2 separate regions of the Homo sapiens genome follow, and region 2 is linked to region 1. The links come from fine-mapping of genetic effects on gene expression. Tissue or cell type: whole blood. Region 1 holds a variant in brackets; the other region holds the start of a gene. All regions are shown on one strand. Distances are between the middles of the regions.

Region 1 (2,681 bases):
CTTATGCCTGTAATCCCAGCACTTCGAGAGGCCAAGGCAGGCGGATCACCTGAGGTCAGGAATTAGAGACCAGCCTGGCCAGTATGGCGAAACACCATCTCTACTAAAAGTACAAAAATGAGCCAGGCGTGGTGGTGAGTGCCCTGTAGTCCCAGCTACTTGGGAGGCTGGACTGGAGAATCTCTTGAACCTGGGAGGCAAAGGTTGCAGTGAGCTGAGATTGTGCCACTGCACTCCAGCCTGGGCAACAGAGTGAGACTCTGTCTCAAAAAAAAAAAAAAAAAAACCCCAGAAAACCTCACTACCCAATGATAGTAAAGAGATAGGAACCTGGCAAGCTGATGACAGCCCCACTCTTCCTCTTTTGCCTGCATGCCAACTGGATCAAGAGAGAGAATAATGCAATTTTCTGTTGTTATCATACCATAATTTACTGCATTTATTTAGTAAGCCCCATATGTAATGGCTTATTTATTTATTTTTCTGAGGCAGGGTCTTGCTCTGTTGCCCAGGCTGGAGTACAGTGGCATGTAGCTCACTGCAGCCTTGACTTCCTGGGCTCAAGCAATCCTCCCACTTCAGTCCGTGTGGAGTAGCTGGGATTACAGGCATGTGCCACCATGCCCGGCTACTTTTAAAAAATTTTTTGTAGAGATGGGATCTCACTATGTTGCCCAGGCTGGTCTTAAACTCCTGGGCTCAAGTGATCCTTTGACTTTGGCCTCCTAAAGTATTGGGATTACAGGCGTGAGCCATCATTCCTGGCCTGTAATGGTTTTTATTTTGTTCAACCACCTGTGAATATCCCTATGTACAAGTCTCTATGCAAAGTAACTAAAATGTCTAGTTTCAGGTTTTACTATTTATATTTTCCCCTAAACAGTTTACTTTTAAAATGACGAATCCTCTCTCTTTTTCTGCAGAATGTATCCGTTGCCTACATTGGGATATTAATCGGTGGAGACTACATTTTCTCTTTGTTAAACTTTGTAGGGTTAAATATTTGGTGAGTGGGAATTTTTAATGGACTCGCTTTGGGAAGACAAGAACCTTAAACACTCTGATTAATATGTAATAAGCAAAAGAGCCTGGAGAAGTCTTTCACGTTAAGCCAGGAGGCGTTTTGACATTCTAATTTCTAAG[A/G]TAATTTTACTTCATCACTGGGTTCATCCTCATGCAGATCCATGGGGACACGTGTGATGGCAGTTTGCGGGGCTGGGATCGGAATTTAACTCACCTGTCTTCCTCACAGCAGGCCCCTGCGTTCTCTGCCCTCCTCCTATAAAGTGGAGGGTGTTAACCTTTGTGCCCACTAGGCTCGGCATGCAGGGGGTGTGGACTAAGCCAGCTTTGAAAGGCATTTGGGGTCTCAGCAGTGGGATACTATTTAAGGCTAAGGGTATGTAGTTTATTCAGTAGAAACCAAGTGCTTATTTTCTCTCTGAGGTTCTGCATTAGATTTGATGACTCTTTTTCTGCCTCCAAAGGCTTGTAAATAAGGGGAAATTCTCATCAAGCAATCCACAAACTTGAGGAGAAACACAGATATTGGAATAATTCCCTCCGCATGAAGCAGGTGTATTGATAAAAACGCCAGCAACTGCTGCTGGAGCCCCTGTGAAATTCCCAGTCATTTATTTTCACTTTTTTTTCTCCTTTCAGCATGGCAGGGGGCTTGAGATATTCCTTTTTAACACTGAGCAGCCAGTTAAAACCTAAACCTGTGGGTGAAGAAAACATCTGTTTGGATTTGAAGAGCTAAAGAGTCTGCAGCAGGATTGGAGACTGACTTGTGACTGCGGGCTGGGGGGGCATTCCCAGTAGGAATGTGAAGCCAGAGGTTTCGGATTCGTGACATCCACCCCCTGGGCAAGTGAGAGCATCTGCAAAATGCAAAGAGAACTACCTCATATGCAGGATGAGCCAATGGCAGTCTCAAGAAATGTACTCGGGCGACACCTTACCTGTGGAAAGCAAATCTTTTCAAAATAAGCCACTGGGACTCGGTAGGTGGAGCCCCAGCTGCTCTTCTAGGGACCTATGGGGCCTTCGTGGCATCTCTGTGCTGTGTGCTGGGGAGGAGGTTGATGTAATGGTGACTCTTTTCTGATCAGCACCTTGGCCGTGATTCCCAAGGTCCCAGCCAAAGCAAAGGGCCAGTTGTTTCAGTTTAAACAGACATGTCTTTAGTCTAATAAAATTAGTTAACTGCCAGTAAAGTTATTTGTTAGCTTTGATGAAAGCTATGTTGGTATCTTTCCCTAATCATCAAAGTAAATAAAAAATCATTTCTATGTATGCCTCATCATGTGATATTATTGGAGGCAGAAAACGGTGCCCATCATTCACAATGTAACAGAATGTGTCACCTTGAAGGGACAATTCCAGACTCCTTTATGACTCGAGGTTGGGGAAAGCTACAAAGTAACTCAATGGGAAAAAAAAAATACTCAGGCTTTATCCTGTTAGCTATTTTTTTTTTTTTTTTGAGACAGAGTCTCACTCTATTCCCCATGTTGGAGTGCAGTGGTGCAATCTCGGCTCACTGCAGCCTCTGCCACCCGGGTTCAAGTGATTCTCTTGCTTCAGCCTCCCGAGTAGCTGGGATTACAGGCATCTGCCACCACGCCCTGCTAATTTTTGTATTTTTAGTAGAGACAAGGTTTGGCCTCATGTTGGCC
Region 2 (2,681 bases), 62 kb before region 1:
TCTTATCAGGGCTGAAAATGTTTCCCAGTTTTCATTCTCCTGGTTGTTTAGTGCCTAAGGGTAGAAAAACAATTCTCTGGGCATCTATATAGTTAGGCCCCAACTTTTATTTAACTTGAAATCTTAAGCTTTTCTAAGAAGCTAAAAGTTCATATATATATATATATATAATATACATTATATATTAAATATATAATATATATATTTTTGAGACGGAGGCTTGCTCTGTCGCCCAGGCTGGAGTGCAGTGGCGCGATCTCGCCTCACTGCAAGCTCTGCCTCCCGGGTTCACGCCATTCTCCTGCCTCAGCCTCCTGAGTAGCTGGGACTACAGGCGCCCGCCACCACGCCCGGCTAATTTTTTTTGTATCTTTAGTAGAGACGGGGTTTCACCGTGTTAGCCAGGATGGTCTCGATCTCCTGACCTCGTGATCTGCCCGCCTCGGTCTCCCAAAGTGCTGGGATTACATGTGTGAGCCACCGCGCCTGGCCAAAAGTTCATATTTTTTAAAGACTGACAAGGGTAGGCGGTTCTGGGAAGCTGTCCTTCAACTGACCTGACCCGAAGGCAAACGGCCCTCCGCGAGGAATGCACCTACCACAAAGCACCCAGAGGACACCCAAGTCCCAAGGCTTCACCCACCTTACTCCTAGCCACTCCACTCCTAGATATTTATTTAAGAGAAATGAAGACACAGGTCCCACAAACGCCCACGAATTTTCATGGAAGCATTTTTCCTAATGGTCCTAAACTGGAAACAACCAATGGATACACAATTTGTGATACTATTCAACGATTAAACAAACCACATGGTCGAGTCCAAAGCATAGAGTGAAAACCCCTGAGACCACATGCTCATTCATAAATTCTAGAAAGCACCCTGTTTATTTGAAATTCCGGAAAAGGCAAACCTAACCTACAGCAATAGTCATCGATGAGATGCGGGCGTTAACTTCAAAGGGGCAGCAAGGGGAATTTTTGGGGCGATGGAAATGTTGTTTTGAGTAGTTACTCCTGTGGATGCCTTTGTCGAAGCTCATCTCAAACTATGGACTGGCAAGATGTGTACACTTCATTGTATGTAAATTATACACTAAACAAAAAAGTTGTAGGGAAAAAAAAAAAAAAGCAAAACAAGCCCTGAGACTTACTGAAGCGTTTCTTTCCAGGAAAGCCTGGAGGAAGGCAGCGCTTTTCAACTCCCCAGCGCATTGCCGGCCCTGGAGACCGAAGGAGGTGCCTGGAACCAGGGTGAAGTCCAGCGCGCAGGGTCCTCCCGCGCCGGCCTCGGGCGCTCGCAGGGGGCGGGTCGGGACCTGGGATTGCGCCGGGCTCTTCCTGTTCCTGCCGCGCCCTCTTCCCCGGCCCGGCCGGGCGGGACCAGTGCGCAGCCGGGGCTGGCGGGCGGCGGGGTCCGCGGGGCCGCAGGAGATGACGGCCGGCGGCCAGGCCGAGGCCGAGGGCGCTGGCGGGGAGCCCGGCGCGGCGCGGCTGCCCTCGCGGGTGGCCCGGCTGCTGTCGGCGCTCTTCTACGGGACCTGCTCCTTCCTCATCGTGCTTGTCAACAAGGCGCTGCTGACCACCTACGGGTGAGGCGGGGCCCGGGGCCGGGGGGTCTGCGGGAGTGCGGGGCTGCCCCTGTCCTCCGTGCGCTTCAGCGGCGCCCGGGACAGGGCGGGTGGGGACAGGGACCCTCGAGTCTCAGCTGGGCACATTGGTCGAGTTTCCCAGGCGCCCTCCAGAACTCGCTCAGCTTTCTACACTCAGGCCACAACCTGAGAAAGTCGTTCTCTTCCTGAGCGCGCCTGCCCTGCTGCGAGGCGCCCTGTCCTAGGTGGGCTGGTAGAGCTCAGACAGATTCTTTCATACACCCAGCGAGCTGAAAACAGGGATTCAAATGCCTGCTTCAAAGGACGCAATTCCTTACACAGATCTCCATGTTCAACGGTCAGGTACTCCTGAGCCAGTAAGTCTGTATTGATTGACTGTTCATTCTCAGATGACCAGCGTGTTCATGGAAAACTCGGGAAAACAATTGGAAGTTCATATGGAGTACTTTTTTGGATTAGTGTGAAGTAAACGCAAATTTGTGCTGCCTTGAACCTATTTGTAAGGACTAGAAAATCCTGCTTAATTCTGCTACCATTGTAGCGGCACTGAGAAAATTGTGGATTTAGACCCAGCTCCACCGGTTAACACCTGTCTTTTTGGACCAGTCTCACAGTCAGCAATTTTTTTCAGATGCAAAAAACCTGAATGATTACAATCGTGTTAATTACCCTCCAGGGCTCTGCACGAGCTGTTATATGTGAAGGCTCTTTGTAAACTCTACTATGTTACAAGAATATGCCATCAACATTTTAGAGCCCAAAGAGACCTAGAGTGTCTTAGTTAGAGAGTATCTTAGAGTATCAGCTTTCTTTTTTTATATATACATACAGATTCAGCTTATGTGGGTCTCACTTTTCTCGAATATAAAATACGAAAGCTGAGGCTGGCTGAGGTGGTTTGCACCTGTAATCACAGCATTTGGGAGGCCAAGGCAGGCATATATATATATATATATATAGTGTGTGTGTGTGTGTGTGTGTGTGTGTGTATAATATTTTTTTGAGACAAGGTTTCACTCTGTTGCCTAGGCTGGAGTGTAGTGACACAATCATGACTCACTGCAGCCTCG

What was found. PIP is the estimated chance that this variant, and not a neighbour inherited with it, causes the effect.
Region 2: SLC35D2 starts here. The variant in region 1 is fine-mapped to the expression of SLC35D2 in whole blood (TOPMed, PIP 0.98).

The regions. Positions count from the first base shown.
Region 1 is chr9:96,320,323-96,323,003 of GRCh38, reverse strand. SLC35D2 (solute carrier family 35 member D2) reads left to right here. Exons shown (of 12, transcript NM_007001.3): 11 at 924-1,006; 12 at 1,663-2,294. The coding sequence ends at 1,762. SLC35D2-HSD17B3 (SLC35D2-HSD17B3 readthrough) reads left to right here. Exons shown (of 26, transcript NR_182427.1): 11 at 924-1,006; 12 at 1,663-2,006. Among named protein-coding and RNA genes, the nearest start is that of HSD17B3, 19 kb to the right of the region's middle. The variant A/G (reference allele first, on the strand shown) is at 1,144.
Region 2 is chr9:96,382,386-96,385,066 of GRCh38, reverse strand. It overlaps SLC35D2 (solute carrier family 35 member D2), which reads left to right and starts at 1,356. Exons shown (of 12, transcript NM_007001.3): 1 at 1,356-1,590. The coding sequence starts at 1,433. SLC35D2-HSD17B3 (SLC35D2-HSD17B3 readthrough) reads left to right here and starts at 1,356. Exons shown (of 26, transcript NR_182427.1): 1 at 1,356-1,590. RefSeq lists silencers at 1,368-1,697, 1,708-1,757.